Regions from separate parts of the Homo sapiens genome. Here regions 1, 2 and 3 are each linked to region 4. The links come from fine-mapping of genetic effects on gene expression. A gene starts in region 4. Each other region holds a variant in brackets. All regions are shown on one strand. Distances are between the middles of the regions.

Evidence for each region.
Region 1: its variant is fine-mapped to the expression of LINC00839 in prefrontal cortex (CommonMind, PIP 0.95).
Region 2: its variant is fine-mapped to the expression of LINC00839 in esophagus muscle (GTEx, PIP above 0.99). The same link has a PIP of 0.9 or more in gastroesophageal junction and prostate.
Region 3: its variant is fine-mapped to the expression of LINC00839 in fibroblasts (GTEx, PIP above 0.99). The same link has a PIP of 0.9 or more in subcutaneous fat and uterus.

The regions. Positions count from the first base shown.
Region 1 is chr10:42,362,460-42,365,144 of GRCh38, forward strand. It overlaps the pseudogene LOC441666. Among named protein-coding and RNA genes, the nearest start is that of LINC00839, 110 kb to the right of the region's middle. The variant GA/G (reference allele first, on the strand shown) is at 1,660.
Region 2 is chr10:42,181,333-42,184,017 of GRCh38, forward strand. No RefSeq gene overlaps it. Among named protein-coding and RNA genes, the nearest start is that of LINC00839, 290 kb to the right of the region's middle. The variant G/A (reference allele first, on the strand shown) is at 1,556.
Region 3 is chr10:42,678,081-42,680,765 of GRCh38, forward strand. The region is part of intron 4 of LINC01518 (long intergenic non-protein coding RNA 1518); the gene reads right to left. Among named protein-coding and RNA genes, the nearest start is that of LINC01518, 12 kb to the right of the region's middle. The variant C/T (reference allele first, on the strand shown) is at 1,527.
Region 4 is chr10:42,474,022-42,476,706 of GRCh38, forward strand. LINC00839 (long intergenic non-protein coding RNA 839) reads left to right here and starts at 1,470. Exons shown (of 5, transcript NR_026827.1): 1 at 1,470-1,859.

The DNA of each region.
Region 1 (2,685 bases), 110 kb before region 4:
TCTTCTGACATCACATGGCTCAGGCCCGGTGACGTCTTTCTTCTGACACCTAATTTGTAGAATTTCCTGAATATCCAGCAATTCTCCAACATCAACCAGTTGTTTAACATTTTATCTCACACTACTCAAAATCAGTGCAGATCCCACAAGTCCAGAGTTTAGTCCCACAATACTGTCCTTACTGCAGATGCCCGTCACAAGTCCCAGGTGCTCATCTGTACTTCTGAGTGACTGTCTAGAGCAGCTACTTTAAATGGTTCAAATTATTGAACCCCTCCTGGAATTGAATAATGTGATTAAACTACTCACAGAACTCGGCAAAACACTATACTTGTGTTTACCAGTTTGTTCTATAAGATACAATGCAGGAACAGTCAAATGGAAGAGGTGTATAGAAAAAAGGAAAGTGGTGTGAAAAGATGGGGGCACACAGAAAATTTTGGTAAATAACTGTGATTAATAAAAATTTCTCATCTATTGTGTTCTCCAGGAGCAGCTTAATGAAAATAAACAACTTTCCCATTGTGACTTAGATGATGCTTGCTTTTTTCACCTATCACATAGCCAGACACAGACTCTACAAATTTTCATCATTTTCCCATAAAGAATCAGCTGAACAATTGTCTTTAGTGATCATAACAACATACTTTTTAATCCAACTTTGCTTAAGTTTCTCTCCTTCCCCAGACTCCTGAACTTTGACCCAATCTCAGTCTGAGCAAACATACAACCTCATGTTATGTCCCTGCTAAAAAGATACTGACTTCAGGGTAAAATATTCTCTGATCTAGAGTCTGATTTTGCCACCCTTCATCCTGCCCTCCCCTCCCATCTCCTTTCTAATCTTGTTTGCTTCTCCCTAGGAAAGACAGCCCTTGTATGCCTAACCTTTGAGGTCCTCAAAGATCTTATAGTCTGTACTACCCCCTCTTGTAATACTCCTTTGGAAATTCAAAACTTTTTACTTAAATCTGACTTTTTTTATTTGACAGAGTCTAGAAACAACCCCAGGTCAATAAAAATTTCATCCTCAGAAAGACCCTCCCAATGCCCTTCCATCCCAACCCCAGCTGCATCTGCCTATGGATCCCCAGCTCGCCTGGGCTCTGTAGCTTCTCTCAGTAGAAAGGATTCTTCCATGGCTGGGGTGAGCGGGCTGGGACACCTGCAGGAAAGGCTCCTCAGGAAGAAATAACTGGACCTTCAATAACCTTTTTTTGCAGTCTCAATATTGGCCTTAGCTTGGAGTCACTGGGCTCAGGCTTCAATTCCCAGTCAGAGTTATTCACTTGGCTTTTTAATACTAAGTGTTTGAAAAATTCAGCAAAATTGCTCAAACACAGAGTTTATATAAGGGAAGAAAATTTTAGGCCGGGCATGGTGGCTCATGCCTGTAATCCCAGCACTTTGGGTGGCCAAGGCGGGTGGATCACGAGGTCAGGAGTTCCAGACCAGCCTGACCAACATGGTGAAACCCCGTCTCTAATAAAAATACAAAAATTAACCAGACATGGTGGTGCACACCTGTAATCCCAGCTACTCAGGAGGCTGAGGCAGGAGAATTGCTTGAGCCCAGGAGGCGGAGTTTGCAGTGAGCCTAGATCATGCCACTGCACTCCAGCCTGGAAGACAGAGCGAGACTCCATCTCAAAAAAAAAA[GA/G]AAAAAAAAAAAAAGAAGAAAATTTTAAAGTGCTTACTTACATTCCATGACTTAACAAAAAAAGCAAAACTATCCCTTTCAGACAATAAACATGTCATTAAATTATTTTATAACAAATCATTTAGTAAACAATTAGTCACTTGGGAACACTGCTAGGAGGTGGCAAGTCCCATCTCATAAAATTTAGCATTTATACTCAAAAATCAAGATAACAGGATATAGAGCAGAGATAGCCACTGTCACAATTCACCCTACAAAAATCGGAACTGTTTTGATGAATCTACACATTTCACCAACTGATCTATCATATTTTCTTGTAGAAATATATTCATTATCTATAGCCATAATGGAATAAACATTTTTTCCTATTCTTTTTCCCAGTAGCACTCCCAAAGCTAAGCCCTGGGATTTTGTTTGAATCTTCCCTCTCTTAAAAAAAAAAAACACTTGACAACCTTTCTACACTCACTCTGGGGAACAAAAAGGCAAATAAGAATTTTTAACAAATGGAATGTATGACTAAATATTTAATTTTTTCCTGAAACCTACCTTTTTCATGTCCTTTGTATATTTTCTTAACCTTTCAAGCTCTACTGATAAAATGTAATTTACAGTTAAAAAACTAATAAGTGAACAAATATCTTCGAGGTGAAAAACCTAGAAATTCAAATGCTCATTGGAATACAGATGTGTTTGATTCATGTGTCAAGTCAGGCCATCCAACAAATGAGAGATCCTCCCACCCTCATCCTGATCGCTTAAGTGCTCAATGACCATGCTCCAGGAGAAACTATGCTATGCCCCAGTGAGGGCCTCAAGTGCATTTTACTTTGCAGGTTCTTGCACCATCTCACTGGGTTGGGTAGTTTTTGTTTTTTGGACTATTTTCTTTCCTTCACAAATCTGAAAGAATCAAGGGCAAAAATTATTTCTCTCTTTTAACCTCAGTACCAGCATCTGATTAGCTGACCAGCAATATGTCTCCAAGAAATGGAAGCTGGGTTGGATGAAGGCAAACTTAATGT
Region 2 (2,685 bases), 290 kb before region 4:
TCTTCTCATGTATGTGTGTGTGTCTGTCTATACATGTATGTACACTTCATGGTGCATCAGCTGGCGGAACCCTCAGGACACCCCTTCACATCCCCAGTGCTCCATTTCACACATGAGGAAACTGTTCATGACAGCACATGGCTGATTTGCATAAAAGTCACTTGGTCAGCAGTTGTTGAAGCTGAACTTGGAATCTAGGTCTGTCTGACCTTAACTATGTTCCTTCCACAGAGCCACGTTCATTCCATAGAGGAACCCACCACCTATAAAACCAGAAAAGAGACAAAGCCAGAAGTGCAGGTTGGATTTCTTAACACAAGCTCACTGCGACCTCTAGTCCTCATCACGCTGACACTAAGCTTAAACCCAGACCCTTCTACAGTTTTGTCTACAAAGCACAATTTGCCCAAAGCCTTTACAAACACCAACAGCCTTTCTTTCAGATATGGCAGCAGGGTCACATCTTACACGGCCCTGATCACATTTTCTCTCCTCTGCCATCCCCATCTCTCTGACTCAGTCCTCGCTTGCAGCCATAAAAATGGATGAGTTCATGTCCTTTGTAGGGGCATGGATGAAGCTGGAAACCATCATTCTCAGCAAACTATCGCAAGGACAAAAAAACCAATCACTGCATGTTCTCACTCACAGGTGGGAATTGAACAATGAGAACATATGGACACAGGAAGGGGAACATCACACACCAGGGCCTGTCGTGGGGTGGGGGGAGGGGGGAGGGATAGCATTAGGAGGTATACCTTATGTAAATGACGAGTTAATGGGTGCAGCACACCAACATGGCACATGTATACATATGTAACAAACCTGCACGTTGTGCACATGTACCCTAGAACTTAAAGAACAATAATAATAATAAAAAAAAGAATGAGTCTTGTACATCTAATTTGCCTCACAAATGTTAAAACAGCAAACCCGCATCCCCTTCCTCTTCTCATGTGCTGTGAGGGATGACCTCCAGGCTCTCAGATACTAAGATTGTACAAGACCTAACCCAGAGAATTACTCAAGACACTCTACATAAGAAGAATTGTGGTGCTAGCTCTCCTCATAGAAAAATATTTTCTGTCTCTTGTTGAGATTGACAGCAAACACAAAAACACGGAACTATTTGGGAGAACAGAAGACAGTGATACACTAGGGAAGTAAAACACACCCCTTCCCCTTGCATTGGTTTCCTGTTGCTGCTGTAACAAATTACCACAACCTTACTGCTCCACATAACACAAGTGTATTATCTTACATTTCTGGAGGTCAGAAGTCTCAATGAAGTAAAATCAAGGAGTAATAGGGCTCTATTCAGTCTAGGCTTCAAGAGAGAGAATCCAATATTGAGCATTCCGTCTTTCTGATGTTCCCACATTCCTAGCAGCCTGGCCCGTTCCTCCACCACTCCAGTTTCCCTGTCCATTGTCCCAGGTCCTCTCTGGCTGTTACCTTCCTCCCTCCCTATTGTAAGGACCCTTGTGATTATGATGGTCTCACCCAGATAATTCAGGATACTCTCCTGACCCCAAAATTCTCAACCATGTCTGCC[G/A]AGTTATTTTTGACATATTCATAAGTAACGATCATAGATTCCAGATATTAGGACAATGATGTCTTTAGTGGGTGTATTATTCATTCCACAAACAACTCTCATCATCCACACAATGGTCTTCCCCTAAGGTAGAATAAAAATATCACAAGGCAGATTTATGAGGCGATCGACCTAGAAAAAACCTGAGACTCTAGGACTGTCTGATGTGTGGATGTCAAATCCTGGGAGATTCTGAGTCTCTGCTCTATGTGGACTCTATGTTGTGTAGCCATTTGTGGAAGGCTTCTGTGATTTTGTGACCTAGAGAAAATGAATCTCTGCTAAAATCAAATCTAAGAAAGATTGGCAAAGGGAATTTAAATATTTCCTAAATTTTTGGAATTTCCCTAGGCATTAAAACATGAGAAGTGGCAATAATTCAAACCAACGATGCCCTCCAAGAATAAGGATTTTTCCAATGCATTAGGTTGGGTCCCCTCAGTGAGAAGGATGCCAAAGATTCGCATGTAGACAGTATATTTACAAAGTGCGGGAAACAAGCAAGTGAGCAAGGGAGGGGAGGAGGGAAAGGGAAAGTGAAAGGTGCCTCAGAAGGAGCCACCTCTGAGGATGACGAGAGCTCAAGCCCACATAGAAACACAGGAAAAATGCCTCTGTTATTCCACCTGAGAGGTGAGGGAGCTGGGGGATGTGTACACCTCCCTTGTCATCACTGATTGACAGCCGTCCTAGGGGATGCTAATTCCAGGCCATGAGGTCTGCCTCATTTGCAGCCTGAGCTGCTTCCCCAGGTTCAGATAGAGCAGTGAAGGGGAGAAAGGGCCATAGAGAGTCAGCTGAAGTATAATGACTAGAATCCCCAAGGCGTAGTAACAATGACTGCTAAAATTATGCACAAAGAAAAAGCGCATTTGAATCCAGAGATGTATCTCTCTGAATCTGGATATATGGATCCTGGCAGCCTGTTCAGTAGCCATTTCCCAGAAATCCAGTCCTCTGGAAAAGCAGCAGGAGGTTTGTGCACAGGCTGCACTACCTTGGTCTGGCCACTGGTAGTCGTGCATGAGAACTACTCCCTGGAGTATTTCTCAGTCCACTGACACTGATGTAATTGGCTCCACTTCCCCTGC
Region 3 (2,685 bases), 200 kb after region 4:
AGAAAATAAATCAGTGGTTGCCTATGAAGACACAGGAACGTGGGGGAAGTAGGAGGTAGCAGCTAAGAGGTGAGGGTTTCTCACTCTTAAGTGGGTAACTCATAAATGGGTAATCGCTTCTAAAAGTGACTGTGGTGATGGATGCACAGCTTCATGAATATTCTAAAAACTACTGAATTTCTCTCTTTCTTTCCTTTCTCTCTCTCTCCGTCTCTCTTTACTTCTTTCCTCTCTCACTCTCTCTCTTTCTCGACATGGTCTCCTTCTGTCACCCACACTAGTGCAGTACCGCCATCTGGTCTCACTGCAACCTATATGCCTTCTGGGCTTAAGTGATCTTCCAGCATCATGTCCTCAAGTAGCTAAGACTACAGGCATGAGCCACCATATCCAGCTAATTTTTGTATTTTTTCTAGAGATGCTGTTTTGCCATGTTGCCCAGGCTAGTCTCGAACTCCTGAACTCAAGCAATCCACCTACCTCAGCCTCCCAAAGTCTTAGCGTTATAGGAATTAGCCAATACACCCAGCCTGAATTGCACACTTTGATAAATGAATTGTGTGAGATGTTAATCATATTTCAATTAAATTATTATTATAAAAAGGGCCAGATGCAGTGGCTCACACCTGTAATCCCGGCACTTTGGGCGGCCAAGGTGGGCCAACTGCCTGAGGTCAGGAGTTCAAGACCAGTCTGGCCAACATGGTGAAACCACATCTCTACTAAAAATAGAGCAAAAATTAGCCAGGTATGGTGGCATGCGCCTGTAATCCCAGCTACTCGGGAGGCTGAGGCAGGGGAATTGCTTGAAACAGGGAGGTGGAGGTTGCAGTGAGCCGAGATGGCACCACTGTACTCCAGCCTGGACAACTGAGCTAGACTCCATCTCAAAAAAAAAAAAAAAAGAAAATGGGGGTTGAGCACAGGTGGCTCAGGCCTGTGCATAATTCCAGCACTTTGGGAAGCTGAGACAGAGAGATCACTTGAGGCCAGGAGTTTGACACCATCCTGGGCAACATAGCAAGATCCCATCTCAACAATAAAAAATAAAGAAGTTAGCTAGGCACGGGGGCAAACGTCTGTAGTCCCAGCTACTTGGGAGGCTGAGGTTGGAGGATTGTTTCAGCCCAGGGGTTTCAGGCTGCATTGAGACATAATCAAGCCACTGCACTGCAGCCTGGTGACAGAGCAAGAGCTTGTCTCTAGGAAGAAAAACAAAAGTAATGCAAGTTTTCGTCACCTTCTGAGAGTAATCGACTTTCAGGAGGACTAGAAAAACAAAAAAAAGGACCACTGAATGGTTGAGGGTGTGTTCCTGGTTAGGCTCAGTTGCTGGCTGAGTAGTATCTGAAAAATTAATTAGTAAAATTACAGCTCTAGGGATCAGTCATGCAGTCACCATAGCCAGGACTACAAGTGAGCATCACAACTCCCAGCTACTTTTTTTTTTTTTTTTTTTTTTGTGGAGACAGAAGCCTTGCTATGTGCCCAAGCTGGCCTCAAAACTCCCACCCTCAAGAGATCTT[C/T]CCACCTCGACAACCAGAGTAACTGATTCTACAGACACATGCCACCGTGTCTGGATAATTATATTTTATTATTATTTATTTGTGTAGAGAGGAGATCTTGCTATGTTGCCAAGGGTGGTCTCAAACTCCTGGACTTAAAACAATCCCCCCATCTCTGCCTCCCAAAGTGCTGGCACTACAGGCATAAGCCACTGCACCAGCCTGACTTAAGGTTTCCTTAATCTAGCAACCCATACTTCATATAATTGGGAAAGGCAGTACTGTTTTTTTTTTTTTAATTACTTAGTATTTCAACAAGAATCAACCATCTCTCAGGGCCAGGCACGGTGGCTCACGCCTGTAATCCCAGCACTTTGGGAGGCCAAGGTGGGTGGATCAAAAGGTCAGGAGTTCGAGAACAGCCTGGTCAATATGGTGAAACCCCGTCTCTACAAAAAAATGCAAAAATTAGCCAGGCGTGGTAGCAGGTGCCTGTAGTCCCAGCTACTCAGGAGGCCGAGGCGGAAGACTCTCTTGAACCTGGGAGGTGTAGGTTGCAGTGAGCTGAGATCTCCCCACTGCACTCCAGCCTGGGCAACAGAGCGAGACTCCGTCTCAAAAAAGAAAAGAAAAAAGAAAAAAAAAGAATCAGCCATCTCTCACCATTGCCATGACCCTGGTCAAAAACACTTATCTCCCATCTGGATGTTGCCACAGCTTGGCCTCCCTGCTTCTACCCAAATCTTCCCACAATCTTTCTCAACTCAGCAGCCAAGGGATGCTTTTAAATCAGGAGACAGATCATGTTGCCTCTCTGCTCAGAACCCTCCCACAGTTCCGATCTCAGTCAGAGTAAAAGCCAAAGCCCCAGCAAGAGCCTCCCAGAGATTACACAATCTTTACTGATCAGACACACCATGGAGTTCCCTCCTAGCATCTTTATCCTGTTGTTTCTGCCTACAATGCTCTCACCTCAGCACCTTGGCCAGTTGCTTCCCCCACTTCAAGTCTTTGATAAATTTTCACTTAGGGCAACCCTGGCCACTCTATTTAATATTGCCATCTGTCCCCATTCCTGCCATGCTCTTTTTTTTCCACAAAATCTCGCTGTGCCACTCAGGCTGGGGTGCCATGGCACAATCACGACTGAGACCTCGAACTCACTGGTGAAGCAATCGTC
Region 4 (2,685 bases):
GTTACTTTAATTATGACTTTAATTGCTTAAAGTATTTCCTGGAAACACGAAGTTGTTAACAAGTGTTAGTTATTTTTGTTTGAGAGAATTTCAAGAGATTGAAATTATCAACAGAGGAATGTGAAAGTCGTTGGGCATTAAGCTAAGCCATAAAAACTTTACCCTGAAAATCGTGGGGGTGTCCTTGAATGCCCACGAGTTTAATTTCCATTTTCTGCCTGAGGTTTTAAGGAGTATGCAGGATTAGGAGGGTAAACACTCATAGCTCATTAGTCTAACAGTGAAGAAACCATGAGGGCCTAGAGTAATGGAAAGGCAATGAAGTGAAAAGACAGTTAAAATGTGTAATTTTCCAAATACAGAACTGAGATATTTAAAAGGATTGTATGTGGTGGTTGGGTGCCATTACAAAGGAGGTGGATGAATTTTAGGCGTCTAGATTTGTGGTGCTGATGGTTGGGCAGGGGACAAGCACACAGGGAAACAAGGAAAAAAGATGTATTTAGGTTTAGGTAAAAATATCACATGCTCAGTATCCAATTCCTGTTAAACACCTGGAGATGGGAGTCTGTGGTGCAAAGGGAGTTCGAGTTTAACTATACACGATTGGGTGATGCTGGCATGCAAGGAGAGATGAAGCCATGGATTTCATTAAGGACCCCAATCTGAATGTGGACCGCACACAAGAATCAGAACCAAAACCTGGACACAGCCAAGACTGCAGGTTTCTCTTCCCTTGCTCCAAATCCACTTTCAGAAGAATTAGAGAAGAATTGACTAAAGAATGTAAGTAAACTCCAGGAAACAGGGTTCCACAGAAGCTGGGGAAAGGTCAGTACGTGGAAGAGAGAGATCAGTAGTACCTGCTCGCTACAAGGAGGCGCCTCCAAATGTCAATGCCTATTTTCAACAAGTGGGACCCAAAGTGATTCATGCCAGTGCTCTAAAATACACCTGACCCTTGAACAATGTGGGGGATATGGATGCTAACCCCCCACAGTCAAAAATCCAAGTTTAACTCTCAACTCCCCCAAAGCATAACTCCTAACGGCCTGCGGTTGACCGGAAGTCTTTGTCACTAATAATACAAAAAATTAAGACCTATTTTGCCTGTTATTCACATTACACACTGAATATGCTGCTCCCAGCGGAGGCCGAGACTCCTGCCCGGGCACCCCCTCACAGCCCCCACTCCAGCCTCCCCAGACTCACCCTCGGCGGGGCCACCTTCTTCTCATTTCAGTCTGGGGCCACATTCTCCGGGCCTGCGGGGCATGGCAGGAGGCAAAGCCAAAGGCGAAGTGGCCACAAATTCCGGTGGGGGCGCTGGCTCCTGCCCCACCCCAGCATCTATACCCTGAGTCTGATAGGACGAGAAGGAACATTTCAGCCAGCCCTGATTGGGTCATATTATCCAATCAGAGTTGTTTTGCACAGTGGCTCTCATCCAATCCGAACATGCCTTACAGGATATCTAGTTAAATAAGTCATTATAAATAGTTGCTCCGTGGGCTTTCCGCATTTCACCCTGCTCCAGGCAGCGTGGTCTGTATGGCTCCGCCCTGGGCAGGAGGAGAAAGAAGAGGGCCAGGCACCACGTGCCTGCACTCTCCCTGGATGCTGGAGGCTGCTCCGCCGTGGGCAGGAGGAGAAGGAAGAGAACTGGGTGCCGCCTGCCTGCACTCTCTCCGGATGCTGGAGGCTGGAGGCAGTGAGGCAGCAACAGCGCGAGGGCGAGGCGACTTTGGAGCTGCCTCATGCAGCGACCTCGCCTTCCGCTGCGCCTCCTCCCAGAACCCAAGAAGCCTGGAACCTGTGGCGTCCAGCCCTGAAAGGAGGAGACGGCAACCCAGCCGCGCGTGAGTCCGGGAGTCTGGGATACCGGCGGCAGAGGAAGGACAGGCAGGAGTCTCGGCCTCTCGGGGAGCGACGTGCCGGGAAAGGCAGGAGGGCCCCAGCGGTGGGGGCGGGGGTTGCGCGCCGGGGAGGGCGGCCTCAGGCTGGGAGCCTGGCAGATCGTCTGACTCTCCCCGAGCCCCATCCCAGGCCGAGCCAGGACCCCTCTGATGCACAGGCGTCTCAGGAGCCCGTTTCTTTCTTGAATCCGGGGCCCAGTGCGGCTTGAACCTAGCCCCCGACCTCCTCCTCGCCCTCTCAGAGTCCGCTGGGGTGGGCGCTGAAGGAGCCCGGGTCGGAGAGGAGCCCTCCCCTTCTCTCCTGCGTGGAAGCCCTGCAGCCTCCGTTTCTTTTGGGACTGGGGTCCGGGGCCTTCTGCCTGACCCGGGGTGAGAAAGGGAGCCCTGATCAGGACCCGGTGAGAGGGCGCTGGAGCCCGGGAGCGGCAGGAGCCTTGAGCGGCAGCCCGGGAAGAGGATGGGGTCACCTTCTGCCCCAGGTCCCCCACTGCCAGGATCTCTGTCACCTTCTGGGGGTCCTGTCCCCTGGGGTCCCACCCCCCGGGCTGCCTGTGGGTATCTCTCATCTGGAACTGGAAATAACCCTCTTCATAGTACGGCTTAGCAAATATTTATTCGCCCATGCACCCCCCTTTTTTTTCCTTCATAGTGTTCTTTTTGTCTTGGATCATTTGTGTTTTTCCTACATTGATGTGAAGCATTTTTAAAGACACTTTAGAGATTAGTCCTTTATTGGTTCATTTCTATTGTAGGTTGTTGTTTCCTACTC